2 separate regions of the Homo sapiens genome follow, and region 2 is linked to region 1. A link means that fine-mapping ties the variant in region 1 to the plasma level of a protein whose gene starts in the linked region. Region 1 holds a variant in brackets. A gene starts in the other region. All regions are shown on their reverse strands.

The links. PIP is the chance, under the fine-mapping model, that this variant and not a neighbour inherited with it causes the effect. Protein levels are from antibody-based Olink assays in UK Biobank. Linkage for the fine-mapping came from a reference panel and not from the study's own genotypes, which makes the PIPs less certain.
Region 2: it holds the start of C1QL2, and the variant in region 1 is fine-mapped to the plasma level of the C1QL2 protein (UK Biobank, PIP 0.92).

The regions. Positions count from the first base shown.
Region 1 is chr1:207,118,796-207,133,348 of GRCh38, reverse strand. It overlaps C4BPA (complement component 4 binding protein alpha), which reads right to left. Exons shown (of 12, transcript NM_000715.4): 5 at 9,342-9,427; 6 at 8,983-9,174; 7 at 6,454-6,636; 8 at 1,609-1,803. LOC107985251 (a long non-coding RNA gene) reads left to right here. Exons shown (of 3, transcript XR_007066838.1): 3 at 3,075-6,339. Among named protein-coding and RNA genes, the nearest start is that of C4BPA, 22 kb to the right of the region's middle. The variant A/G (reference allele first, on the strand shown) is at 1,794.
Region 2 is chr2:119,151,309-119,167,263 of GRCh38, reverse strand. C1QL2 (complement C1q like 2) reads left to right here and starts at 8,513. Exons shown (of 2, transcript NM_182528.4): 1 at 8,513-9,678; 2 at 10,283-11,021. The coding sequence starts at 8,995. The coding sequence ends at 10,462. RefSeq lists an enhancer at 9,335-10,145.

The DNA of each region.
Region 1 (14,553 bases):
CATTCTCCATGTCAGTAACTCGACCAGTATTAAAATGGGGTCTTTTGGACATACTCAAACACTTCCAGTGCTCATTTGTTTAGGAATTATAATAAAAATATTCAGCAATCATATGGTTTGGATATTAAAACAACAATAATATTTATGAAATGCTTTGCAGTGCAGAAAATACTTTTAAATATGTAAGTCATGAGTCTAAATTCACATTTGATCAGGTTTCATAACTTGGATAAATACTACTTCACTTCTGCTTTTAAAATGGTTAAAAATATTCTTTATTAAATAATTAAATCAATAAGATCATAGGGGATCAAATAAATGTAAACAACTGGGTCCTGCTCTGTCATCCAGGCTGGAATGCAGTGGCATGATCTCGGCTCACTGCAGCTTTGGCCTCTTAGCCTCAAGTTATCCTCCTACCTCAGCGTCCTGAGTAGCTGGGATTACAGACGTGTGCCACCACATCCCGCTAATTTTTTAAATTATTTGTAGAGACAAGGGTCTCACTCTATTGCCCAGGCTGGTCTCAAACTCGTGGGCTCAAGCAATCCTCCCGCCTCAGCCTCCCAAAGTACTGGGATTATAGGTAGGAGCCACCGCACCTAGCCTAAATACAACTATAAAGGAGGTTTTTAAACATTTATAAGCAATACTTTTTGTTATTTAAGTAATGGCGGTAAGTTTTATTAAGTATATTTTTAATTCAGTCCTTTTATTAAAATCTTTTATTCTATTTCCCCAAAATGAGTCTGAATAACTGCAATTAAACTTTGTTAAGTCTTAATATGAAATAAGTAATCTTCTGACAGGTTGATCTAAACTACCACTTTTCATTATTTATGCATTTCACAGATTGTTGAAATTCTGATATGCAGCATAAAATTCCCTGTATTCTTGGCCTCAGTGTCTTCACCTCTAAAGTGGCAAGGTTCTGATAGATGGATAGAAGAAAGCATTTTCTTCCTCTCTTGTCTGTTCCACTGAGGCTCATAATATAGTATCCACTTGTCGTTCAGTCCCTCACTCATTTCCACAAATAAAAGAGGTGCGTCTCCTACCAGAGAAACTGGAGGAAGTCTCCTTTCTATCCTTACGAAGTGAGAATGCTCAGTCACGAGTCAGGATTTGTCTTCTAGAGGCAGATCAGGAAGCCCTGCCATCTCATGGTTCAAGAGACATGAGACACAAGTCACCCTGCAGCTGGTTACGCTCATGACTGTTTCACAAACTTGTCTTCTGCCAAACACCCCAAAGCCCATACTGGGGAGGTAAGGGCTATGAAGGAAGCCTGACTCTGACAATAGTTGAGCTGTATTCTCCATTCTAGTTTTACCAGTAAGAAAACTAATACATAATCTGCATAATGTTTGACTTCTGTGTCTACTTCTCATTTGATTCTGAACTGGGATAAGGAAAGGTTACAATTTCTCAGTGCCTCAAACTGTAACATGTTTATGGTCCCCTTCTGGCACTAACAGTTTACTAATCTGTTGAATTAACTTAATTCTAAACTTGTTGTGAGGGATAAAATTATATTCATTTAAGGTAGAGAATCCTAGCACATACTGGACATTTAATATACAAAAATATTAAAAAACAAAAACTCACCCTCACATCCTTGGTATGGGGTCCATCTCAAATTTTTCTGACAAATCACAGTCGTAGGCTCATCTGTAGTGGGTTTGTAGCCAGGATGACAGCGGTACCTTAACACAGTCCCAACAACATACACATCCTCTTTTGTCGGCCTAGGATATGTTTCCCAGGAAGCATGTGGAATGTCTGGTAAATTA[A/G]TACAACTATCTACTCATGAAAGAAGAAGAAGAAGAACAAAAGGACGCTATTACTAGGGCTGCCACAGCAGTCAATAAGCCTGTCCTATCAAAGGGGGTCATACGTTCATTCAGCCTGGAACCAGCCTGCAAGGCCTGATGTATCAACCACACCAGAAAACACACATGGACATTCGCTCAAATGTGCACACCTCCAGAGAGGCTCTTCACTAAGGGCACTCCCAAGTGGTTTCCATGTGCTGTGCCAAGTATAATAATTTTAATTCTCATTCCTCTTCTTTACATTTCAGAGATTTTAGTTTCTGAACTGAAGCATGGCAGGAAAACTGTCACAAACAAATCTAACTATGTTTACTGATTGATTGGGGAAAATAAACAGGAGCCGTTCCCCTCATCCAGATGATACCAGGAATGACTTGGCAAGAAAAAAACCAAGCTCCAAACATTTTTTGAGCCTGGGCCTTGGATCTTGTCCTCTTCTCTCTTTCCCAATGCTACTGATTCATATGATATGAAAATATAATGCAAACATCTACCACGTTGGATGATTATTGAAATGGAATATAAAAGTTCTTTTTTAACAGCATTATTCAGATTAAAGTCACAACAAATAAATTCACCCATTTAGAATGTGCAATTCAATGGTTTTTAGTATATACAGAGTTGTGCAACCATCACCATTAACTAATTTCAGAATATTTTTATCAACCCAAGAAGAAACCTCATATTCATTATCAGTCACTCCCTATTTCCACCTCCCCCTAGGTCCTGACAACCACTAATCTATTTTTTTCTTTATGGATTTGCCTAATCTGAGCATTTTAAATAAATGGAATCACACAATACATGTACTTTTTGTGACTGGCTTATTTCAGTTAGCATAATATTTTCAAGGTTCATCCATGTTGTAGCATACATTAGTACTTTTTATTTTTCATTTTTATTGCCAAATGATATAATCTATTTTATGGATAAACCACTTTTTGTTTATTCATTATTCATTTGATGGGCATTTGGGTTGTTTGGCTATTATGAATAATGCTGCTATGAATCTTCATGTAAAATTTTTGTGTGTGGACATATGTTTTCATTTATCTTGGGTAGATACCCAGGAGGGTAATTAGAGTCATATGGTAACTCCATGGTTAAACTTCAGCAGGACTGCAAAAACTCTTTTCCAAAATGGTTGCACCAATTTACATTCCTATTAGCAGTGTATGAGAGTTCTAATTTTTCCACATCCTCACCAACATTTGTTATTGTCTATCTTTTTTATTACAGCCATTCTGCTGGATGTGAAGTGGTATCTGATTGTTACTAGAAGGCTATCCTTACAAGAAATGCTAAAGGAAATTGTTCAGACTGAAAGCAATTGACACCAGACGGTAATTTGAATCCACACAGTAAAACAATGAGCATCAGCAGAGGTCATTATGTCAGTAATTTGAACCACAGTATAATATATATTACTACTCCTTCCTTCTCTTAGCTGATTTAAACAGCAATTGCATAAAACAATATGTATATAATTGCATTATTAAGCCTATAACATACAGAAATGCAATATATTTGACAATAACATCACAAGAAAGGTAGGAGGGAACAAAGCTGTATTATAGTACAGAAATGACACCAGATGGTAACTTGAATCTACAGGAAGAAATAAAGAGCGCCAGAAATGAAGAATAAGAAGATTAACATAATAAACTCTCTAAATATATACTTGCCCTCCTTTCTTCTCTCAGCTACTATAAAAGACATGAAACATGAAATTATATAAAACAATAATTATAAAAATTTATTGTGCAGTTTGTAATATATGTAAGTGCAAAATATGTTGTTGGATTCTTGGTTGAGGTTTTTATCTTTCTGCACTTTGAATGTGTCATCTAGCTGCTTTCTAGCCTCCATTCTTTCTGATAAGGAATCAGATGTTAATCTTACTGGGGTTACATTGTACATGATGCGTTGCTCTTCTCTTGCTGCTTTCAAGATTTTCTCTTCATTCTTGGTTTTCAACATTTTGATTATAATGTCTCAAGGTCTAGACCTTTTTGCAATATCCTACTTGAGTTCAACAAGCTTCTTGGATATGTAGATTAATGTGTTGTTTTGTTCTTTTGTTTGGGTTTTTTTTTTTTTTGGTCAAATTTGTGATATTTTCAGCCATTTTTCCTTTGTATAGGTTTTTATCTCCTTTCTCTTTCTCTCATCTTTCTGGGACTCTCATTATACATATGTTGGTACACTTAATGGTGTCCCACATTTCTCTGATGCCATTTATTTTTCCTCATTCTTTTCATCTCTGTGCTTCAAATTGCATAATCTCAATTTATCTTCAAATTCACTGATTCTTTTTCCAACTCAAATCTACTGTTGAGTTCCTCTTTTGAATTTTTCATTTTACTTACTGTGTTTTTCAACTCTAGAATTTCCATTTCTTTTTAAAATAATTTCTATCTTTATCAATATTTTCTATTTGATAAAACTGTCATAATACATTTACTTAATTCTTTAAATATTGTTTCCTTTAGTTCTTGGGACATATTTATAATAGCTGCTTTGTGATTCTTTGAACTTTCCTGCTAAGTCCATTCTCTGGGCTCCCTCAAAAACAGTTTCTATTGTTGGCTTTTTCCCTTTACATGGGTCACTCTTTCCTGTTTCTTTGCACATCTGACAATTTTTTTTTTGAAAACAGAACATGTTAGATAATACATTGCAGCAACTTTGGATATTGATTCTCCCTTACCACCTTTGGGATCTGTTGTTGTTTCCTCATTTTCTTGTTTGTTTAGTGACATAATTGGACTAGTTCAGTTAAGTCTGTTTCCTTCAAAGTGTGCAACATCTAACAGCATGCCTCAGACAGCACAGACTTGGGCATGTACACAGTCTTTTTAACTGCCAGAGATAACTGTGGTTTTCTCTTTGACTGTCTCTTTCTCATTGAGACTTTGGGTGGTCTACCTCTGTTGGTATTACATACAACCATTGGCCTCCAGCAATCTTTATCTGATTGTTCTACTTTTTTCAGCAACTCCCTGGGGCATAATATGCTTCACAGTCTAATCCAATTAAAGTTCCTTGAAAGGGGCAGAGTGTTTACAGTCTTTGAAGCTTGCTCCAAATCTGCCCTGGAAGAATGTCTGTCCTATAGATCAGGAGCTGGGGGAAATTAGAAAACTCATTCTTTCCCAGGCACTGCACTAGAGTTCTTCTTATGGTGTAGGAGCTGTGAGAAGAGAAAAGGGGGAAGTAGGAACTGGCACTGCCACCCAGCTGCGCCCACCACCAAGTACACATATTCCACAGCGCAGAGCTGGGGAGAATAATAACTGCCAATATTCATAGCTGTCAACCTACCCATAATAGTTCTTCCATTCTAGGAAGCTGGGGAAGATGGGAGATGCCACTTGGCTGCTGAGCCAACTGGAATAGTTCTCGTGCAACATAGAGCCATGAAAAAGGGGGGACTGACTTCTTACCAGCTGCCCCACTTAGATCCTCCCCATATAATCGGAGTTGGGGGTGAAGGAACAGACACTGATGCATGTTTGCTGGCACCGATTCAATATTCGACTTCCACAGCATGGATCTTTGAAAAATACTGTCATGTAATTTTCACTGGCTGCCAAATCCACCCCAAATAACTTTTTTACCCCAGGGAGCTGGAGAAGATGGGAATTGCCACTTGTGGGATGAGCCCACAGAAAACATCCTCCCGCAAGGTAGAGCTGTTGCAGCCCCTAGTTCTAATGCAATGTCCTCCCACTGTTCCTATCAAGTCTCCATATTTTTGCTGAATAAATGCTTCTCGGTTTGTTGTAATCCCTTTGATCACTCTCCAGAGACTTTGAATGGTTTTCTTTGCTAATTTTGACCAGCTTGGTGGATACCTCTTCAGGAGAGAGGTTTCCCCAAACTCCTCCACCACTGCTCCAGAAATCCCCAGAAGTTCTTGACATTTCGTGAGGGCAAAACTTAGAGCACAAGGCATCAGTGGCTTCCTTCTCTTACCAGTTGTATAACCTTGAGCAAGTCTTTTAACCTCTGTGAACAGTTTCTCATCTGTAACATAAGGATAATCATAGTGCCCACAATTGTTGGGAGGATTTGTTGAGTTAATCCTTGTTATGCACCTAGTCTAGTGCCAAGTTATCATTATTACTATTGTCATTATTTTTAATAATCCACGAGTTTATAACTTCAGAGTGTTGGAATCATAACCAGTTCACACAATACTTTTGTACAAGTTATAAAAGGCATTTTTCCTCAGGACAATTTATTATTTGTCTTTCAAAGTAATTATAATAATATAATGATTTTGTTAGAATAAGACAATTTTCTATCAAATTCCATAAAATTATTGAAATAAATATACAAATCCATAGTATCTACAATGTTAACACCTCCCTTTAAGGTTGGAATGTGCACAGTCTTGTGGTATGTGGCAGTTTTGTGTGACAATATATGACCTTGCAGAGTGCACTAAAATCATTCTTCTTTCCAACAAGAAAAAAATAAAGGAAATTATTGATCTAGATGTAAATTTTTACTGTAATTCATAGTAGGCCTATGCATGCAAGTATACCCGTATTAACAGTACGGGGTACCTTTAGATGCCAAACATTGAAATTCTGTCACAGTCCATACTTACTGGGCTCACAAGCAGGAGGAGAAGGATTCCATTTGCTATCAGCATCACAATGAATTACACTGCTGCCTCTGAGAACAAAACCTTTTTGGCACTTAAACACAATAGTGTCTTTGTAATTATAGATGGGTCCAAATCCAGAGACCATTTCCCCATGTGAAACATCTGGCTTGCGACAGGTGATTTCTAAAGAATCATGAGAAAAGACAAGTGGATTTTAAAAGATAGATGGTAATAAGGATATTACTGCCACTGCTAATCCAGTTACAAGTGCAACACAAATGCCTGTTGAATGTGCATGTCAAGTAGATACAAGGGAAACATTTTAAAGTGAATACACATACACAAACGCATACATATATATCTGTATATATAATATATATATATATGTAATCCTTTCAGTACTAGTTTTTATTGGTGGAGAAGTTGAAGAAGTTATCCACAATTACCTCATAGAAAGACCAATGTAATGGAAACTCATTTTACTGAGGCTTTTAAAAGCTGAAATTATTTATATTATGTTAATGATACTTATTATATATTTTATATATTCTATAATATAGTCTTATAGAATATATAACACTATACCAATAGTATTATATATTATATATTTTTATATTTGATATAATATATATTTATATATACACATATGTATGTGTGTGTATATATATAAAATATATAATTTCAGCTTTTAAAATGAGTTTTCATTACATTGGTCCTTCTTCGAGATGACTGTGGATAGCTCCTCCAACTTCCCTACCAATAAAAATCAGTCATACATAACCCAGCAGAAACATATTTCCAAGGCCCCCAAAACTTTCAGTATAATGGCCTAATTTCCTAGATGATTTTGGTTATGGGTCCGTGGCCCATGGTAATTACATAGTGCAGAGGCAGCCCAGGGGATCAGAGACCCATGCCCCGACAAGCAGAAAACAAGCCGCCCCCTATCTCACACCCCTCACCCACATCCTGGCAGTCATCCAGTCCTGGCAATTCTGCTACTTTAATTCCTCTACAATCCCTTAACTTCTGTCCAGCCCCACTGCCATGCTACCGCTGAAGCCACCTTCAGTTTTTGGCTGGAGGGTTGCACAGGTGCTGTCTTAGTCTGTTCCTGCTGCTATAACAAAATACTTTCACTAGTTTATAAATTATGGAAATTTCTTTCTCACAGTTCTGGAGGCTGGGAAGCTCAAGATCTAGCCACCATCAGATTCAATGTCTGCTTGCTCTCCCCTTTCAAGATGGTGCCTTCTTGCTGCGTCCTCACATGGGGGAAGGGATGAAAGCTCTGTCCTCACAAGACAGAAGGGCAAAAGAGACTAGCGCTCTCCCTTCAACCTCTTTTATAAGGGCACTAATCCCATTCATGAGGGTGGATCCCTCATGACTTAATCACTTCCCCAAAAGTTCCACCTGTTAAAACGATCACATTGGGTCTTAGGTTTTATCATGAGTTTGGAGATGCACATTCAAGCCATAGCAGGTGACTGTCAGTTAAGTTTTGTCCCACTTCAGGTTGTTGTCCCACAGCCAGAGTTATCTTTCTAAAATGCAGCACATTTATTCCCCTTGTTAAAGCCTTTCAAAGTCTCCCCTCCATGATTGTTCTGAATGCCTGAGACTGAAACACAAGGCCCTTCATAACCTGGCCCCTGCCCACTTTTCTGCCCTCAGCTATTGCCGCTTTCACTTGTTGCAGATCTAACTCCAGGCATTTTGCACTGTTGGCAGTATCCTGCTCTTTTGTGCCCCTCGTCTGATTGTGTCCTGTGGTGGGTTAGTAAGCAATACTGTGTAAACTTAGTAATATAAAGTAAGATTCCTTAGACTAGCACACTAACTAACATATCTTTTGACTCAATTATCACTTGCTTTGTCCTGTTGCCCTTCTGGCACTCAGGTTTTGCTTGCCCTACAGGCATATGTGTTTCATCTTATAGGTGCAAATTATATTTTCATTTCCGCTTCTTGAACAGACCAAGGCTACATTCCCCAGTCCTCTGAGGCTACTCTCTAGTTTGAGACAAAAGGCTGTAATGGAAAGTGATATGTGGTTGCTTCCAGGCCAAAGCTCTTAGCCAGGACACAATTGGCCTTTCTCTCTTCGTCTACTGAAGAGACTGTGAAGGCACATTTTGAAATGGAGGTGCCATAAGATCAAAGCAACCTGGCTTGCTGAGCTAGTTGCTAAGCTAACACAGACTACGGCTGCCCTGGAGAGTCTCCTGGACATGGAACAAACTCAGTGTAAATGAGAATAAACTTTTACTTCACCAAACCAGTGAGATGTTGTTGCTGTTTGTTCCCATATACTGTTAGCTCCCAGTTCACCACTCCCATTTTTATGGCTTTTATATTCTAAACAAACATGCAATAAGTATCAGGTGGCCAAATAAATGATTGCATCAGAGCGATAGTTAGTTTATCTTTGAATTTTCCATTTGCCCCCCAATAAATTTACCTTTCTTTCTCTTTTAAACAAAAGAGAGCAAACATTTTGATGCAGAATTCATCATTATGACTTACTTTCACAGGTAGGAGGGCTTGGTCTCCAAACACCTATTGTTTCATTCTCCACAGTGCAAGAAATGGAGGCATGGCCCAAGAGTGAGAAGCGGGGGTCACAGCTGTAGGTGACAGAAAAGCCGTATGCGTAGAAATTTTCTTCACCGCTGTGCCTTCCATTCCTGATGTCTGGAGGAGGCTTACACTTGACAACTGAGGTAAGTGAGTGAAGAGAAAGAAATACTCAGCGAAGGCATCATGATAAATCTAAAATTCATGCAAATTCTAATGGAAGGTACACATACCTGTAAAGATGCACAGGGACTTTATTACCTAACAGAGTTTAAATTGATAGTCAAGTCAGAAGAGTCTTTACTTACTTTCACATTGTGGGAGAGGATGACTCCAGCCAACTCCTCTATCTTGGACTTCACAACGACTAGTGGTTGAGCCAATTAAGAAAAATCTGAATAAGATAGATCAAAGATTTTAATGGAATTCCTCCTACCCTAAATTAAATTAAAGAGGTCTGAGCAAATAGAATTGTTACTCAATATTAAAATAAGGAAATCATATGTTCTTGGATATCATTTCCCATTAAGCACTCCATTCAGTAAAATTTCATTACTGCAATGAGATGCGTGTGTTTTTTCCTTTGGACCCTCATTCCTTAATCTGTTACTGAGCATCTACTAGGGATCAGGAATGCAGTTCATCCAGAGCTCAAGCACAACAATAAAAGGCTGGCTTCAGCGTGTTCTGTGGTTGTCTCTGGGTGAGAGTACCAGCTAGATTACTGAGTCCACAATCTCCCCATCTTTGGCTTGAAGCTTCCTCTGACTTCCAGGTGGGTGTCTTATTCCCATACATCATTAGCTTTCAGTTCACCACTTCCATTTTTACGGCTCTTGATATGTCCTACTCTTTCCTCAGTTCGTCTTCCTGCCCTCTATCTTATGCTAACAGAAAAAAACAAAAGATATGAATGATTACAAATTGTAGCATCATCAAGGATATTGATAATCATCAATGATATCAAATTGTAGCATCATCAAGGAATAAACTTACAATGTGATAGAACACTAAAGCAAATGTCACCTTCAGCAATCTAAGAGCCTGTGGAATTTATTGAATAATAACTTCAAGAAAATATATCTCAACTACAACTACAATTAAGTATTTCTTTACTTTAAAATTTCTTTAAAATGTAGTTTTTCCAACCTAGCCCAGAGACTAAGTGCAAAATATTGTTTCTGGTTGTTTCAATGGGAACACCTTAGTGTTTCAACAGCATCTTAGTTCTGATTCTTTTCACTTTCCCTTATGGAAGCCATACACAATAAGGAAAACAGAGGATAAAAATGAGAAAATCAACAAAAATGAAACAAACGGAAAAGATAAGAGAAAACTAATAGATATAGGTAACAAGCAAAAGAGAATCAACATAGGCTTAATTGGATAACCTAAAGAAGGAATCCAAGTAGAACAAAATAGCTTTTTAAAAATTTGTTTCAGGCCAGGTGTGGTGGCTTACTCCTGTAATACCAGTACTTTGGGACGCTGAGGCAGGTGAATTCTTTGAGACCAGGAGTTCAAGACCAGCCTGGCCAATATGACAAAACCCCATCTCTATTAAAAATACAAAAATCAGCTGGGCATGGTGCTGCTCTCCTGTAGTCCCAGCTACTTGAGAGGCTGAGGTGGGAGGATTGCTTGAGCCCAGGAAGTTGAGGCTGCAGTGAGCTATGATCGTGCCACTGCACTCCAGCCTGGGCAAAGGGAGTGAGACCTTGACTCAAAAAATATATATATTTCAAGTAAATGTTACTAAAATAAAACAATACGTCAATCTACATATTAAAATTGCACATCACATAGTAGCAAAAAATTAAACCAAGTGATTTCTACCAAAACAACTAAGAGTAAAAGTATTAGGTTTCAAAGATAAAGAATAATAATTTAGATAGTCAAACAAAGATCAAGCCATATGAGAAGAAATTTCAGATCAGTAGTATTCACTAGCAAAAGATAGTGCAGCAGTACCTATAAGACATCCAAGAAAAGAAAGGATGAGCCAAGGACTATATCAAGCCCCATTATCTTCTAGGTATCAATGCCTCAGATATATTATCTGAACCTGCAAGAACTCAAAGAATAATTTTCACTTGGGACTTTTTTTTGGAAACCACCATAGGACAAACTACAGCCAACCAAGAGATGACAATGGCAACTTTAGCCAAAATAAACAAAAATGGTAGCAAACATTGTACATGCAGATCTAAGAAAAAACAAATGTGATTTTAAGTGTGACTGAAGGAAATATAAATGTTATATGCTCAGACAGCACTGAAATAGTATAACTAAGAAAAAATAGAGACAGGGAAGAGAGGGTAAAATAAATTCCCTTATTGCCTGATCATTTGCAAAGTTGAGAATGAAAGCAACCATAGACACATATGAATATTTCACATTAATGTTAAATACAAAATAAACACTAAGATAATACAAATGATACAAATTTACTGGTAGGGAAGATAGAAGGGGTGAAGGAGGGGTAAGAATACAAGATAAGTTTATTGTTGTTTATAACAAGGAACCAATTTAAACTGTCTAAAGATAAAGAGGAATAATGATATTATATAAATTTAAATGTATATAGGTCACCACTAGAAACAAATTTTGAACCTTCCTAAATACCACCATATATTTTTAATAGAAAATAAATATACACATACATATATAACAAAATATGAAATAATATGATAAAACCAAGTCTATAAGTATCACTCACATCAATAAATGTAAACTCCTAATGAAAGAAAAACAGCTTTTAATTGGAGAAAATTCAGCTCTGTTATATACAGGAGACAAACCTAAAAGTGTTTCAGACAGATTAAAAATAAAAGACAGCATAAAATTATACCAAGCAAATTCAAAAGAAAACCAAAGATAATAATTTTAATATCCCATAAGTTGGACATCAGAACCAAGATTATTAAATGACACACAATGGGTACTTTATATGTTAAAGATTTTGATTTTCAGTGAAGAGCTATGAATCTTTATGTAGCAAAATATGTATGTAGCAGCAATTTTAATAAAACAGAAGTATATGAGACAAGAAAAATAATCAAAATATGCTAATTATCATTAAATTATTTTATAATGGTTAAAATAATTATAAAATTATTAATTTACTTTAACTCCTATCTTCATGCTTAAGGTATATAAAGACAAGCATAATAAAATATTCAAAACAACTTATCAAGAAAGTAGATCTGACTGAGAACAGTGGCTCATGCCTGTAATCTCAGCAGTTTGGAAGACCGGGGCAAGAGAATCCATTGAGCCCAGGTGTTCTAGACAAGCATGAGCAACATAACAAGACCTCATCTCTACAAAAGTTTGAACTTTAGCCAGGCATCATGGCACATGCCTGTAGGCCTAGCTACTCAGAAGGCTGAGGCAAGAGGATTGCTTGAGCCAGGGCAGTCCAGGCTACAGTAAGCCAAGACTGCACCACTGCACTCCAGCCTGTGTGATAGAGGGAGAACTTGTCTCAAAAAAAGAAAGTAAATCTGATGTGTATATAGCAAACTCTATATACTACTAATAAAGAAAATCCTTCATTCCAGTGCCTGTTGAAATATTAATGAAAGTTGATTGTATATCATGATGCGCCATAAAACAACTGTAAATTTTAAAACATAAAAATAAGTAACATTCTTGGTTAATCTAGAAGTCTTTTTATTTCTTTTATTTTCTGTTTTTTAAATTTTTTTATTCTTTAGAGATGGGTTTCGCTATGTTGCTCAGGCTGGTCTTGAACTCCTGGGCTCAGGTGATCTTCCCACCTCAACCTCTCAAAGTGTTGGAATTACAGGCGTGAGCCACTGCACCTGGCCCAGTCAGTTTGGAAGTCTTCAGTGGAAGAATGCTTCTACTGGGGGACGCAGCAAGAGTTCCAAAAATTAGAGTTGCCGGATTTAGCAAATACAAATACAGGGTGCCTAGTTAAATGTGAATTTCATGTAAACAATGAACACTTTTTTTAGTTTAAGTGTGATCCAAATGTTGCATGGAACATACACTAAAATTATTTGTTGTTTACCCGAAAATCAAATTTAACTGGGCATCCTGTATTTTACCTGAAAACCCTAAATTAAGCTTGGAGGTTGAGACCTGTCAACTCTGGACCCTCATGCAAGTGAAGGTAAGGCAAAGAAGGAGTCCACTTTGATGGTTGGTGTGACTAATCCTGATAATGAAGGGAAAAATTAGATTGCTTCTGCACAGTGATGGTAAAGATGAGTATGTCTGGAATGCAGGGCACCCAGACATACTGGGTGCACCCCCTTACACTCCAATGCCCTATAATTAAAATCAACAAAAAACTATAATAACCCAAATCAGGCAGGACTGCTGATGGCCCAGACCATTCAAGAATAAAAGTTTAGGTGACCCCATTGGGCAAGGAACCAACGACAGATGAAGTGCTTGCTGAGGGCAAAGAGAATATGGAATAAGTAACAGAAACATCGTTATAAATATCTGCTACAACCACATGACCAGTTGCATAAACAAGGACCATAAAAGTTGTGAATATTTCTTTCTTATTTTAATATAAATGGACATTACATTAATTGTGTTTCTTTTTACCCCTTTCCTTCCCCTACTGTATAAGATGTGTTTGTAGTGGCTTACCTTACATCTCAATATTTAAGTTATAGAATATCAAAGGGGAGATATGACTCAGCTCAAAGGGAATTCTCTTTTAGGAAAAGAATTTCCATGTTTTTGGGTGTATGAGGGATAGTTGCATTATGTAAAATGTGAGTATTACTTTGCTATTGACTTTATTTGGAAATTAAGCTAAGTATGGTTAAAACTAGTGTATACAAATATCACATTTGACAAGGAGTGAGCTGTGGTAGATTTATGTTGTGTCAACTTAGCTAAGCTGTAATTATGTTTCCCAGAATTATCTTCCATACATAATGCCAAGTTAGTATGGCCCATAAAAGACGGTAGATGTGAATTAGTAGAGCCATACTCCATATGCTAGAAAGGTCAGGGCAGAGCACAGGATGTGACTGCAGTTCACAAGCACTGTTGTTTCTCTGTTCTATCACTTTGTTAGTAGAGGGCTCAACCAGGCCACAGCAGAGCCAGCTCCTGCAGGATCTCCTCCTTCATGTACCCTGGCTTCTGATCCAAGTACATTAGCACTGTGACGGACAACTTCTACAGGACATACCCATTTTTGAAGTTGAAGGCTAAGGGGCAGTGAAAGAACAAGATGAATTCCAGTTTACAATGGTGGGCTTTACTCGCTCATCTTTGCAGGTTCCAGTTTGTCCTTGAAGCACTCAGTTCATGTCTATCTTCCCTTCCTGAGTCCCTGCCCTGCTTACTTCAGGCCACAGCAACAGACATTGAAGGAACAGCCTCCTGTAAACACCATTTAACTATCTCCCACACCTATGTCAAGTCAGGTCCCTACAATAAATCCTGCGGTTCTATTTCTCCAGGTAAATCCTGACTGACATAATTAACATAAGTAGATAAGAAAAAGAAAATGGAAATCTAAAA
Region 2 (15,955 bases), not on the chromosome of region 1:
CAGCGGCAGGCCTGCAGGTGCGCCCCGGGAAAGGCCTGGACTTCAGCTGCTCAAGGAGCAGGCAGGCATTGGTGGGACTGAGTTTTGATAGATCAATGGGATATTTTTGCACTGCACTGGGGCTTAGCTGGACTCACTGTCTTTTACTTCTCCCGTATCCCACCTAATGAATACAAGGTCACAGAGGGTGGTGACAAGGTGAGGACAATGGTATATCCATGCCCTCCAGGGGTGTGCAGAAGAGACAATTGAGGCTCAGCAACACTGTGGCACTGGACTGCTTGAATCCCCTGCCGTACCTGTGTCTTCAGTGCCCAGCACATGGCAACTTCCCAGTTAATGTTGGTGCATTGGGAAGGTGAGCTCTACTCCGTGGCTAAGTTCTACATCTGCATGGACTAAGGGCTGAGTCTCCTCTAGGGGAAGTCCATATGGTCTCAATGAACTTCTCTGAATCACAAGCTTGCTTCCCCCAGCAATCCATAGCTTTATTAACATGACTGCCAAGAAGAAACAAATAGCCACACCCCTCTAGTGACCCCTGGGGCTGTTGGTGGCTTGCTGTGCCACCCAGGGAAAAACAGCCTATGCTGGGCTCTCCTGTCTTATTCTATTCCATCCCACAAATGCATGTTGAGTGCCATCTCAGACCCGCCCTGTAGTGATGAGGAGACCAAATGACAGAATCTTTGCCTAAAGAACCTGCAGATTCATAGAGAGAAAAGCCGCTCAGGGGAGATAGGATGTGGCAAGGGCCATCTGAGGATTGCCACTTGTCACGTGTGTCACCCCAGCTCTGGGACATAGGTGGTTTGGGGAGGAAAGGTCCATGTTGGCAGATATTATCATGAAGGCAGAGAAGGAAGTTGGTAAAGTAACCCCCACAGGCTTCTCAGCTAGTGAGGGATAGAGTGTTTCTGCTTTCTGCTGGATCTCGTATCTTGCACATAGTAGGCACTGGATAAATAGTTCCTGCATGGATGAATAATTAAACTGCACCACCCAGATACAGGACAGAAAAAAGCTGGCAGGGGAAGGGTGGCTTGAATGATTGGTTCTTTGGCTGGCCTAGTGTGGGAATAAGCCGAGCTCAGTGCAGGAGGACCTGCTTAAATCATCCTCATTTTGGGTTTCTGAGAGCTGTCTCTCTCTCTCTCTCTCTCTCTTTTTTTTTTTTGCAGGGGACTTGGGCTCTGGAGAAAGCAAGCCCAGACACTGCAACAAGCTCACAGCTCCATGAAGATCCAGCCAGGGCCAGCCCCTTAGAGGTGAGATAATTAGGGCCCCAGTAGCAGTCTCTGAGAGGGCCAAGTGAGGGCTTTCTGGGGCTGGCTGACCCTCTTGACTCAAACGTGTTGCTGCTGCTTCTGGGTTAATGGGCCTGGTGGGTGCTTTCTCACTGGTCACTGAGCAGGGCTGTCTGATGTCTTCAGGGGCTAAGACTGGAGCATTCTTTCTCCACCCCCTTTAGCTGTGAGCATCTCAGGAGCTAGGGCTGAAAATGGAAACAGGCCTGTGGGTCACTGTGGCCCAACCTCTCAGAACAGCAGGAGCCTGTGCACTCCACCTCGCCCCCGTTCTGCCCTACACTGTAGGGCACTAGTTCCTGCCTGAAAGGACTGGAAGAGCCTATGGCTCCTATGCGCCACTAGCTCTAGCTGAGTGCCCAGCAGAGGTAGAAAATATGATTTTCCTTCTCTTTCTTTCAGAGCAATCACTCACTAGACACATGAGGAAGACTAAGGGGCTGGAGGTGGGGTATGCAAAGAGAGGTACAGGGCCAGGCTTACTACAGTGTCTCCAAAAAGGCCAAAGATAGTGCATAAACAAAATGGAGCTGGAAGACAGAGTAATCAATACTTGCAGAAGCAGGGTCCTGGGAGAATGCTTGATGGGAAAAGTGGCACATGTAACATACTGTCCACACCAGCCCTGCACAAACCCTTGGCTCTGTACAGACCAGCCTCTTTGCTGTGCCCCAGACACCAGTTGGGCAGCTCCACTGCACTATCCACCCAGACCTCTCACAGGTTCAAGTCTCACTTGTCCTTGAAGGTCCTGCTCTGTCTCTTCATCCTGGGATAGACTTCAAGTGCCTTGTGTGGCCACAGTGACTTGCATTTGGCAACCTCTTCCTGCCTGTACTCCTTGTCTATACCACCTAAATACAGATGGCTGCTTAGGTGCTTTCTGTTTGTTAGTCTTGTTCCTCCATCCAAGCTGCAAGCTCTTTAGCAAGAACATCATATTCATGCCTCCCACCCTACCCACCCCAGCACAGAATTCTGCATATGGTAGGTGCACATGCTATATGGAGGATGAATGAGCAGATAAATGAATAAATAAGGAAAGAAAGCAGAGAAGAAGAAAAAGAGGGAGAGAAGGAGGGAGGGAATGAGAGAGGGAGGGAGGGAAGAAGAAAGGAAGGAGGGAAGGAAAGGAGAAAAGAGGGAAGGAAGGAAGGGAGAAAATAGAGAAGGAAGAAAGGAAGGAAAGAAGGAAGACTTCTCTGTTTTTTGCAAAGGCTAACAGGAACCTGCATGGCCAATCAATTTCCTTCTTTGCCCTCCTTTCCTAATTTTCCAGCATAAAGAGTATCTTTTAAATTTTTTCACTTTTTGAGCAAACTATGACATGAGATCATATATGTAAAATTTTCAGGCACTATAAAATAATCAATAATTTAAAAATATTTATTTGACACTTGCCATGTCCTCATGACAGTTCCTGCCCTTTGGAGGCTTACCGTCTGGCTGGGAGAGATCAGCAATATATGCAAGAAGCCTTCAGCCAGACTGACCTGGCATCTGGGAGCTCCAGATCTGGGGGGACACATGTCCAGGATCCCAGCATAATCTGGAGCAATTATTGGAGTGATTACATATGACAGTGACATTTATAAATATATAGCTTTATCTTAGTTTCCCCATCTGTAAAACAGGGATGCATATCTCATAGTGCTGTGAGCATTAAAATAATTAATATATCTAAAATGCTTGGCATAGGGATACAGTTAGTGCTCAGTAAATATTACCTATTATTGCTATTGCCAGCAGATAAAGGAAGAGCTTGGAATATTGCAACAGAGCTTTTAGGGTACAGGCCTGAAATGGCTTACATCAATCACTCAGCTCACATTCTATTGGCCATTGTTCTGTCACATGTCCTCACCAGTCTGAAGGAGAGGCTGGAAAATATAGCTGGGCCCTGCCCAAGAAGAAAAGGAAATGATTTTGTGACCTCACAGTGTTCTCTCTGCCATCATCCACAATGACTTCCATCTTGCCATACGCAATGGATACCTTTTTATCCTCATCTTACTCTATCTCTTGTGGACTTTCCAAATTACAGATCACAATCCTCCCTTCTGAGCTGCTCCCCTCTGTGAGGCCATTTTCCTGGCTTTCTTTCCTACTTTGACTGCTTCTGTTTCTTTTCTCCTCTATCCATCTTTTAAATGGCTGGGGTGAGCATGGGGGGATTGTTATAATGAGCTTGTGCTCTCTCTCTCTCTCACACTTCAATCTCCATGAAAACTTGCTTGTGTATAGCTCCATTATCAATTTTTTAAAATAATTTTTTAAATAGAAATGGGGTTTCACCATGTTGCCCAGGCTGGTCTCAAACTCTTGGGTTCAAGCGATCCACTCGCCTTGGCCTCCCAAAGTGCTGGGATTACAGGCATGAACCACCGTGCCTGGCCAATAGCTCTATTTTTAAACCTCACTGCTGAGTACTAGACTTATGTTCATTGCCCACAGGATGTCTTCATTCATATATTTCACTCAAAATGAACATTTCCCAAACTGAGTTCATAATTCCTTCCACCTCCCAGCAGTGACAACATATTGCTCTTCCCCAAATATCCCCACCTTCTCATGCTCACTCACCCAGTTGTTCGACCCAAATCTTAGAAGTTAATCTTGATTTTTTTTTTCTTTTCCTTCTCCTTCCTTAACTTCTATCTCAAATCCATCAGCAAGACCCATGGGCCCCAAGTTCAAAATATACCTGGAATTCACCTACTTCTCTTCTACTATCTCAGACCAAGCCATCGTTATCTTTTGCTTAGATCATGCAATAGCCTTCAAACTGGTTTCATTTCCAAAACCCACCCCCACTCCACCACCACATCCATTCACCACACAGCAGCCAGCGTGGTCTTTGCAAAACATAGATGGATCACATCACTTCCCTGCTTAAACTCCTTCAGCAGTTCTCAATTACACACAGGAGACAATTCACCTCTTTCAACATGGGCTCCAAGGCCTTGGGTGATCTCCCTCCTGTCTATCTCCCTGACACATCTCCTGCTGTCCTTCCCTTTGGGGATGCAGGCAGAAGATTGGCCAATGTATTCCACATGATGTCTCTAAAGAGCTTACACTCTAATTGGGACACAGGTCTGATTTAGAGACAGCATGTCAATAAACACCCATGCTGCAGCTGTTCAGGTACAAACTCATGTGCTACGGGTAGAAAGAAATGGGGGAGCTGAGGGTGTCTTGTAGAACAGCTAGAGTAGAAGGAACCAAGACTGTTGTGTACCACTGTGTACTCAGCACGTGGCATGATGGCTGGCATATGACAGGGGTCAATAAACACATATTGAGCAAATGAATGACATACACAAAAGATGAAGATGAATGAATGATACGATTCCTGCCCTACTGGAGCCCATAGCCAGGTGGGGGAGGCTAACTAATAAAGAAATGCATGATGGTAAGACATAGGATGGCAGGGTACATTCAACGTACTCTAAAGCGTACATGGGTAGGAACTATCAACTCAGCTTAGAGAAGGGTCACGGAAGACTTCAGACAAGGAAGTGACACTTAGCTGAGACTGAAAGGATAATTAGAGAGGAGTCCAGATGAGATGCAGGAGACAGGCCATGGTGCAGGTAGATGAAGCATGGGGCCCACTGCTGGTGGAGGCCACTAAAGAACCGGACATGACAGTGTGGAACCAAGCATCAAACTATGTGTCACAGAGCACAGGGCTCTATGAAAGGATAAGATAGAGAGCACTGGTTGGCACATAGTAGGTTGTCAGTGTATGTTGGCAGAAGGAATGCCTGCTGGATTACTAAAGGCAATTTAGAACAGATTTGAGTGGGTCTCGAAATGTAAAAACCACAGTCTAAATGGAAGGCAATATGTTAATATAGGTCATAATTAGTATTGAAGAGAAGATAGTCACCAATGATATGGATCGCTCAGGAGGAGCAGAAGCCAGGTGGATAAACAGGTATGTCAGCTGGGTGCAGTAGCTCACGCCTGTAATCTCAGCAATTTGGGAGGCTGAGGCAGGTGGATTGCTTGAGGCCAGGAGTTCGAGACCAGCCTGGCCAACATGCCAAAACCCCACCTCTACTAAAAATACAAAAATTAACCGGGCATGGTGGCGGGCACCTGTAATCCCAGCTACTTAGGAAGCTGAGGCAGGAGAATTGCTTGAACCTGGGAGGGAGAGGTTGCAGTAACCCAAGATTGTACCATTGCACTGCAGCCTGGGCGACAGAGTGAGACTCTGTCTCAAAAAAAAAAAAAAAAAAAAGAAAAAAAAATAGGTATGTTCAACACTCCAGCAGGCCATGCCTTCTGGCCCTGCCATGATGGGTGGGAGGAAGGAGAAGCAAGGGGAAAGACACCTCTTGACTTATTTGGCTGCTATGTGGAGGCTGCCTGGGCTCTGCCTGCCCTGGAGCCTGCTGCCCCTGCCTCCTGGTGGAGGGCTGGTCTTGAGAGGCGCTCCCAGGAATGCTGATCCCCAGGGAAGGTAGCTTTGCTTGTGGTCTGCCAAGGTGAAAGCCTGGGTCTCAAACATCTGACCCTCCTTGCTTCATCTTTGCCCAGATACTGCAAGGACAAAATCACTGGGACTTGGCAGTCTCCAGCAGTCTGAAAGGCTGGGGAATTCAAACGGAGTGAGTGTCTGCCTGGAAAATGTTTGTCCAGGTGGAACTGGTGACTGGGAACAAACACTCTGGGTAGTTTTGAAAGACAAAAAGACAGAGCAGGGCAGGCTTGGGGAATGTGGGAGGCATGGGACATCCCCCTTCTGCGCTCTGGAGAAGGACAAAGGATGTGAATTATCTTTGAGCTTCTCTTTTTTTAAAACCCTAACCCTCCCCATGCCACCCTGCATATTGCCTTCATGTCGCATCCTAGTGGTCATAACCATGGCAGGGGAGGTTGAAAGCATCAATAGCTAATAAAAATAGCTAAGCTTCTACTGAGCTAGCTATTGTTCTAAAGCCTTTACATTAATTGGCTCGTTCAGTCTTCTCAATAACTTAGAGGTAGGTTCTTTTTCCATTCCCATTCTACACATGGAGATCCGAGCTCAGAGAGATGAAGCAACTTGCTCAAGGTCACACAGACAGGAAGTCTCAGACCCAGGATTGGAAGTAGGCCATGTGGCTCCTGAAATCACGTGCTCTTGGGATGACTCTGAGGCAGAGAGTGGAGAAAGACTCCCAAGTCTGAGGAAACCAGTGAAGACTGTGGCCAAGAAGTAGCTGTTGAAGCTGTGTTCACTGACAGGTTCAGATAGCCCCTGATCTGGGTGCCGGGAGGATCCTGGCTCTGTCATGTGGGTAAAATGCACTTGGCAAACACCCTACACTTGCAAAACCTTTTTTTTTTCCTCATTGGTGCGGTGGGAAAATGATCACTAATCCACAGTAACATGAGGAATGAATGAAGGAGCACGTGCAAAGTGCCTGATGCATACGTAGTAGGTGCCAATAAATGTGCTCCTTCTCTCCTTGGTAAAGTTGGCTTCCGGCTAGGCTCAGTCATCCTTTCCACAAATATATGTGGAGAGAACAGGCTAGAGCAACGAGGTTGGGAGTGGGGAAATGACCCAGGGTGATCAGAGGACAAAAATAGATTTTAATTAACCCGTAAGAACCTAGTGCAGGACAAATGAGAGTTAGCTTCAAAGCAATAGCCTTAGGTGGGTGCACTGTTGTTCCAGAGATGCTGATGCTACACCAAACACTGACACCAGCCCTTAGATTCTCCCCCCAGGACAGGCCTGGTGTGATTCCCATGTTGGGGGTGCTAGGGCAGGAGGCGGCCTTTTAAGGAAACTGAGTCTCAGGGACAGGAACCACCTGGCAAAATCACACAGCTACTCAGGGCAAGAGCAGAAGCTGGGGCTTTGATTTCTCCGCTGGAAGTCTCTCCCACACCGGCGGGCCTCTCATCCTTCCTTAGCCTCACATGCTACATTGGAGATAGACTATTCTGCTCTCATCTGAGGCCATGGTTTATTCAAGACTGGCTCAGAATGGCTTTGGACTATTTGGACTATTTTCTAAAATAACTAAACCCATCTCAGGAGGAGGAAGCTGGGGATGTCCAAGGGAATGTGCCCATGCATCTGCCTGGCAGTGGCCGGGCTTGGAGTAGAAGCTGAGTGCACCATGATCACTGCCAAGTGCCGGCATCAAGCATTTGGTTTCTACACCAGCTTCACGCAGAGGACAAGGGCCAGCCATTTTCTGGTGGAAGAAAAGGTCTGAGGCGAATATTCCTTTTTTTTTTTTTTTTTTTTGAGATGGACTTTTGCTTTTGTTGCCCAGGCTGGAGTGCAATGGCACGATCCCGCCTCACCGCAACCTCTGCCTCTCTGGTTCAAGCGACTCTCCTGCCTCAGCCTTCCGCGTAGCTGGGATTACGGGCATGCACCACCATGCCCAGTTAATTTTGTGTTTTTAGTACAGACGGGGTTTCATCATGTTGGTCAGGCTGGTCTCAAACTCCCAACCTCAGGTGATCTGCCCGCTTCGGCCTCCCAAAGTGTTGGGATCACAGGCGTGAGCCACTGCGCCCGGCCGCAAATATTCTTGTATTGGGAGCCTTGGGCTTTTTAGAGTCACCTCAGAGGTTAGTGGGGTGCTCTACGGGAGCCTGTTTAAGAGTCTGGAGTCCTTAGTCTAGGTTTGCGAAAGATCTTCCAGAAGCGAGATCTATTCAATTCTGAAGAAATAACTCAGGAGGTCTTTCAGAAACTCCTTCCCGCTGGACCTCACGGGACTCTCCTGGACTCGGTGGGTTGAGGTTTGATCCTCTTTGCAGGCCAGGGGATGGATTAGGTGACCCCAGAGGAGCCCTGCTGACACCTGGATTCCAGCTGCTTTCGTGGCCATGTGGGGGTGGCTGTGCGTGCCCCGCCACTGCGTGCGTGGGTGTCTGTGTGTGTTATCGGTGGGGGGCGCGTGAGTGTGGCCGCGGGTGGGTGTGTCCGATGTGCCCCGGCTTGGGACCGCGCCCGCTGCGCCCACTTGTGGCTCCTGGGAGCCGCCAGGGGGAACCGCGCCTTCACCGCCTCTGCCGAGGACGCCGCCAGATAGGAGGCTGATGACATGAGGGCTCCGTCTCCCGAGTGATGGCAGCGCGCGCTGCTTCGCCGCCTCCGCCGCTCAGCCCCGGACTCCTTACGTCAGGGTAGCGGGGTCCCCCCTCCGCGCGGGAGCCAGCGAACAGCGAGAGAGCACAGCAGAGCGCGCCGCGGAGCCGGGGCGCCCTCACTGCGCTAGGAGCCCCACTAAACCCAGCGGAGCGGAGCCTGGCGGGAGGCAGCGCCGCGGAGCCAGCGCCGGACGCCGCAAGCAGACTCCCCGGCCAGCGCAAGCACTCCCTGGCCGGCGCCGGACCCTCGGGGCGCCGGATTCGTCTTGTGTGCCCCACGTCATGCGCGCGGGCGTCCGCGGCTCTCCCGACCAGCCCCAGCGCGGTGGGCCCAGGCTCAGAGGTCCCGGCGCCTCTCGCTGAAGTAGTTGGGTAGCCGGGGCTGGGGGTCGCCACGTCGGGGGCGCGGCCAGGACCCGCGGAGCCGGTCCCCGAGCGCGGGGAGCGGGGCCGCCCGCGCCGCCCCACCATTACCTCCCCGGGCGGCAAGGAGGAGCTGGTGGCGGTCGCCTCCCGGCTGTGGCAGCGGCGGCGGCGTGCCTGCCTGGCGGCCGTCGGCGTACTCTTGGCCATGGCGCTCGGGCTGCTCATCGCCGTGCCGCTGCTGCTGCAGGCGGCGCCCCGAGGCGCCGCGCACTATGAGATGATGGGCACCTGCCGCATGATCTGCGACCCTTACACTGCCGCGCCCGGCGGGGAGCCCCCGGGTGCAAAGGCGCAGCCACCCGGACCCAGCACCGCCGCCCTGGAAGTCATGCAGGACCTCAGCGCCAACCCTCCTCCTCCTTTCATCCAGGGACCCAAGGGCGACCCGGGGCGACCGGGCAAGCCAGGGCCGCGGGGGCCCCCTGGAGAGCCGGGCCCGCCTGGACCCAGGGGCCCTCCGGGAGAGAAGGGCGACTCGGGGCGGCCCGGGCTGCCAGGGCTGCAACTGACGGCGGGCACGGCCAGCGGCGTCGGGGTGGTGGGCGGCGGGGCCGGGGTAGGTGGCGATTCCGAGGGTGAAGTGACCAGTGCGCTGAGCGCCACCTTCAGCGGCCCCAAGATCGCCTTCTATGTGGGTCTCAAGAGCCCCCACGAAGGCTATGAGGTGCTGAAGTTCGATGACGTGGTCACCAACCTCGGCAATCACTATGACCCCACCACGGGCAAGTTCAGCTGCCAGGTACGCGGCATCTACTTCTTCACCTACCACATCCTCATGCGCGGCGGCGACGGCACCAGCATGTGGGCGGACCTCTGCAAGAACGGGCAGGTCAGTGACCCCTACACTCACCGGCCCCCGTAAACCCTCGCCCGCGCCCTGAACCTCCCAGGGAACCAGCCTCCTTTCTCTCCACCCGCGGGCTACCCTGCGAGCCCCGGGAATGAACGCGCCTCGGTGCCACAGTATCTCCGCTTCCCGATGCGCCGAGGCCGCGCTCACCGGGACGTAGAGCCAAATGTTGGGCCTTGAGAGCCCAGAGACCCCCATACCTAAACTACACTCCTTGGCCACTTGCGTCCCTGCCTGCCTCTCCGTGGGCTTCTCGGAAACCTCAGTTCTTTAGTTCTCTCCAGGTCGCCCCCTTGCCCTGCAGCCTCCTTTCCTCTTGGCCCTGGCCCCTGGCTCCCACCCTTCCACTCTGGGTCAGTGTTCATGAAGCTTCCCCTCTCCCTATTTCCCAGACTCGTCGGCGCGAGGAGGAGGGGGGACCTGGAAGGAGTTGACTAAGTTGGAGAGAGAACATGGAGCTGGGGTGGGAGTGTGGACCCTGAAGCAGCAGGCGGGAGGCCCGTGAGTGGCGCGCCTGGTGTGGGCTGAGCAAAGGCGCGGGAAGAGGTGCCCCGGCTCACCTGCTCCCACCGCTTGTCCCCAGGTCCGGGCCAGCGCCATTGCACAGGACGCCGACCAGAACTACGACTACGCCAGTAACAGCGTGGTGCTGCACTTGGATTCAGGGGACGAAGTGTATGTGAAGCTGGATGGCGGGAAGGCTCACGGAGGCAATAATAACAAGTACAGCACGTTCTCGGGCTTTCTTCTGTACCCGGATTAGGGGCGCGGGGGGTGCGAGGCGGGGTGGCTGCAGGCCGCCCGGTCTCCGCCCGGGCGCGGCTCCTTGGCAAAGGCCACTCTCGATTCATAACACTTCCTGACATCTCCTTTGGAAAAGACAAATCCCTGCGTCCTCCCTGCCCCGCTCCTGGCCTCAGTGCGTCTGCGACCCACCACGCTCAGGGCTGTGCTCCTGGTCTCCATCCCCATCCCGGCAAGGGAGGAAGGGACGCCCGAGCCCTTGAGGCGGCGGCACAGACTTTGCAAACCTGATTAGACTGGACAGGCAGGGCCGGGAGCCTGCCCTCCTCAGACAGCCTCCTCCCAGTGCCTAGAAGCGGAGGGCTCCGGGCCCTGGCCAGGGAGGTAGGCCAGAGGGAGCGCGGGCTTCCTGGGGCGTCCTTCTTTGTGACCCGAAATACTTGTGCAGATTTCCCTGTCCATCAGCCAAAACCCCACCCACAGCAGAATTCCAGCAAACAGAAAATTCACCTCTCCACACCGCATTCCCTCCTGACTCAGACTCACCGCGATGCATTAAATTATGTTTTTAGACTATGCGTTCTGTTGTCTGTATGTCGACACATCCTGGACCAGGGCTCCAGATGTCCGCCTTGGCATAAAGACCTTACCTGGGCCCAGGATAGGCCCATCTATGACCTGCTCCCCAGCCGCTGCTATGTCCCTGCCACCAGAAGTTGCCGAAAAGACATGGGGTAAATGGGAGCTGCATCCCACCCTTCCCAGAAGCTCTCCCCAGGCTGCAGCCCTGAGCTGGAGAGGCCGGAGGTGGGGTTGGGAGGAGGGGAGGAGGCGGGGAAAGGCATCAGGGAGAGTTAGAGGAAAGCAGGAGAGGAATGATTGGGTCTCCAGTCTTGGGCAACTTGGGCAACTTAGTCCTCCCGGAGTTGTGGGTGGAGGTCAGAGGGGAGGGGCTTCTGGGGAAGGAAGGGGAAGAGAAGGCATCTATGGGAAATGGGAGGCGTGAGTGACACTTGCCGGGGAGGGATCTGTAGGATGTTTGGCTCCTAAAAGGAAGTGCAGAAGTCCCTAGCAGACACACACCCGCTCGAGCGGATGGTTCACTAAGCACAGGCCTGTTTACTCACAGCCGCCAGGGCCACCGCTCTCCGGAGAGCTGGTAAACTGAGGCAATTCCGCGGATCATCCAGCTTGCTGAACTTCCTCAGGGCTGTGTGTTGAGGTGGACACCATTCCTTGGGGAGGGACGCCTCTTTCCTGCGGGCTTCCCTTCCCTTATGCATGCGATTTGGGGTGCCTGCTCTGAACCTGAGTGTGTGTGTTTGGTGTCCCATCAGCATTCTACACACACACAAGTTAGGAAAACACCCCGCATGGTTTTGATTTTTTTCTTTTTACTTTTTTTTTGTTGTCAGATCACTGAGTTACAACAAAGTTATGTACAAAATAACCAGTCAGCTCCCAGCAACCTGTTAGTGCTTACTGAGGTCACTTTTACGGGTTGTGTGAAAAGAAATGTGTGAGTATACACAAAAAGGCAACCCCAGGGTGTGTGTATCTGTGTAAAGCTGGAGATTGTGTGTGTGTGTGTGTATCTCCTATGTGGATGTGATGTTGTGATTGTCCTCACGTAATCCACATTACACATGTACACACACTTATATTCATAAGTCCATGTCAGTGTGGTGTGTGACAATGTTCATGCTGCATTTCTGGCCCCAAATTGCTTTGTGCTCGACTTTAGTTCCTGGAGAATGCTGAAAGCTGTGATTCCCATTTAAAAGACAACTATACCCCCTGCCTTGAGTCCTGTTGCTGTCGCTATTCCTTTTTGCTCTTATTTTGTTTGAATAATGTTTTATTGTCATTCTTTTCAATATGAGCAATGATTATGTCTGCTTTGAGTCCAGGGATAAAGTACTCAAAGAGAATGGGAGGAAACACATATATACATACTGCCATCCCCTCCCCCAGTTCCAGACCTAGTAATCCCAACCCCAATTCCCCACCCCACCCCACTCCTGCTGATTGTGGATCCCTAACCCAGCTGAGCCCAGGAACTGGGAAGGGCAGAGTCAGGCCCATCTACAGTTGCATAGGTATCAATTTCTGATGCTTTGTTGATTGTGTCATCCAGAAATGTGATTAAAACCAAATGTCTGAGACCCAAATGAAGTCTAATTGCTATGGATCTGCAATCCCCAGCGGGCACCTAATCCTTTTTGACTTATTCCTCCCCTTCCTCCGATGAGATGGAGCTTAGACACAAAGCCCTTGGTTTAAATTTCAAAAATTAAAATTGACATGCAGTGGTGGCTTTCCTGGGAGCAGGAGGAATTTCTAAGGAGGTGCCTGAACCCAGCTTTATCCTCTGCATTAAGAAGCAATTTGTACTTCTAACAAAACCCCTGTCACTCCCCTTTGGCAGAAGGGCAGTGGAGATGCCTTGCCTGGGTCTGACTGCTCACAATACTTAGACAAATTTGAATCTGAGATTCCTCCATCTGTATTCCCTGGTGCAGCCGGGGCTTCTTGCAATTCTAATGCCCGGGCTGCCGGAGGTGCTGCCAGAGGTGTCAGCTGCTAAGAGGATGATGGATTGATGAGGCGGCGGATGGGAGGTACGGCGTGGCAGGAGCTAGCAAGCTCAGGAACAATCTCTCTGCGTATGCACACCTTCCAGGTCCCAGGCAGGCCCCTCATGGCCCACCGAGGTCCATGACACCATCATCTGTCCAGAGGACTCTATTGGAAGGGGGCAGGGTGGAGTGGGGAGGCAGGCTTCCCACCATTGTCACCGTCATGGTGCCATCAGTCTTGGGGTGCATGTGGAATGCAAGAAACCCTTTGCGCCAGACACTTACCCTTGTCTCCAGTTGAGTAGGGACTTACTATCAATTATAATCATAACATATTAGTTTAATTTCCTAATTGCTTTTGGGTCCCTTTTCTAATTACGTTCTTGGTTTGGGATTATCATACTGGCATCATCCCAGAAGTTGGAGAGATATTATTCTGTCCATTTGGGAGGCAGAGAAATTGGGGCTTAGAGAGGTCCATGACTTGCCCAAGTGCACAAAGCTTATAAGAGTCTGAGCTGCAACTTGAACTCAGACCTACAGATTTTGCCCCTGTTTGCCTGCACAGAAGGGGCAGGTCCAACTCCCAGGGTTCTCAGGCCTTTGAGAGGAGAGCACATAGGTGGGGCACACTTCCCACCCCTTCCTCTGATATAGGACATGGCAGCATCCTCCAGAGGGTCAGATGAGAACAGCCAGCTTCTTTGGCCCAGGCAGCCCCCCCAGAGAGCACCCCAGACAGAGGTTCCCACTCCTGAGGAATTTGGCTGAAAAGCCTAGCCAGTGCTGATGGCCCATTGGGGCCTTACGTCACCAACTCCAAATGCTCCATTGGGACCTGTCTGTCTTGACCAGCAACTCCCCTCCCCTCCAGTCTCCTCTCCTCAGGGCCTGCTGACCACTTTCTCTTAGAACAGCTCTCCCTTTTCTCCTCTAGGTAGCACTGAGGAGGGGGCCATCCTGCAAGTGTAGTTTAGTGAAGTGAGCATTGGCTACCTCTGATTGGTGGGAGAGCACTTCCCCATTCTCAAAGCCAGCATCTCTGCGACTATCATTCAGGACTGCCTAAGTGCATGAGATACACACCTGGCCCCAGAAATCCTGATAGAAGTTATGCCTTCTGCTACCTTTCTCTCCTATCTGTGTGAGCAGATGGCTCTTTTGGGCACCCCAGACAAAACATCCAGGTCCCCCTCTGCATCAGGCTGTGATGCCACCAGAGGGGCCACTGCACAGACTCGTTGCTCCAGACTTCTCTGATCATACAGTTCTACTGGTTAAACAGTTTTTGAGCACTCACAACCAATATATTTACTTAACTTACAAATAATTTCTGTATACCATTGTCAGTCTACACTTTTACATTGTTCCATCTTTTTGTATTTACGTTCATCAAAGGACCTGCACATTCAAGTCAGTATCTATGTTCCAGCTGGCTAACCAAGTTTGGAAACCAGTTTCTTTTCACTGGAGCAAAAAGAGACTAGGGTTAATTCAAGGGCCGTTTCCCTTCAGCTTGCCATTTCCCAGAATCTTAGGCCTGAAGAGATATTCTTTTCTGAGTCACAGGTGAGCCTGAGTACTTTAATTCTTGGAGTGCACAGTTTCAGTTTACGTTTTAAGAATTTATAATGCATGATTCCTCTTACCTTTTTCAGACTGAAAATAAATAAAGCTGAAGTTCCCAGGTTTTCTTCTTACACCTGATTTTGGAGACTGATGTTGGCATTGGTGCCAACTCAGTATCAGGATGGGCCCGGCGGGGCGGGGTCTCTCTGGGGCCCCTCTGAGTATCAGGGGGGACAGACTCGGCAGATGGAAAAGAGGAATTTTGGGGGAATGTTTTGGTCTCTTGTTATTGCTATATTCGAATTCCCCTCCATGAAGGAGCATAGAGCATAGCAGCAGTTGCAGCACAAAATATGAGAAGTAGTTTAAAGCATTTTATCCTACTAATTTCAAAAATACACACCAGTACATTGAATAGTGTTATGAGCCACATGGGCCTGTCATCTGCTCAATACTTACCTCTCCTGGCAAAGCATAAAAAGCTGAATTTTGATTTTTAAAGACCTCATGATGTGTTAGGAATTGGTGATAGGGCACATTGTGTCCTCCCAACACCCCTATGAAGTCGGTCTAACTATTAGTCCCATTTTACAGATGAGGAAACTGAGATTCAGAGAGGTGAAGTGACTTCCCCAAAGTAAGGGCCGGGACTGGTGCCAAGGTCTGTGTGACCCCAGAGCCCAGGCCCTTTAGGGAATATGGGTGGAGCAGGGAGGCGAGACCTTAAAAGACAAACCACAATGTGGGTGCGTTTCTAGAAACAGGATTCCCCATCAAGCACTCTGTGGGTGCAGCCAGTGCCCAAGGGTTTTTCTGGAGGCCTTGAAAGGAAGTGCCCCCCTTTCCTAACATTGCAATCCATTGGTCCCTGGCTTCTTGCTCTCCCTTTCTTACTGTTCTGTGTGCCAGTCATGCTCTTTCCTCTACCTGGAACCCTCTTCTCCAGGTTAGCTCTCACTCTTTCAGGGCTCAGCTGGCACATGATTTCCAGTAGTCCCCCCACAGCCCTGGTGCTCCATGGCTTCTCTTCTCCCCACCCTGGGGGCCAGAGAACCCTGCTGAGAGCCTCTCTGCATGGCAGTTATGACACTGTTGTAATCCTGTGTCAGGTGGTCTGTCTTCCCCATGGACTGTAGACTTCACAAGGGCGCTACCTGGTGTCTGTGTGGGCCACCAGAGAATATTCTCTGCCCCCAGCACTTCTAATGGTGCCTGGCACACAGTAGGTGCTCAATAAATAGTTTCAGAATGGATGGATAGAGGGATGGAGGCATCCTGGGGGATCTTGAGAAGGTAAATCTTGAAAACATTTTGACTTCACAATGGGATCATAGGGGGTTGTCCCAGCAAGCTGAATCACTGCT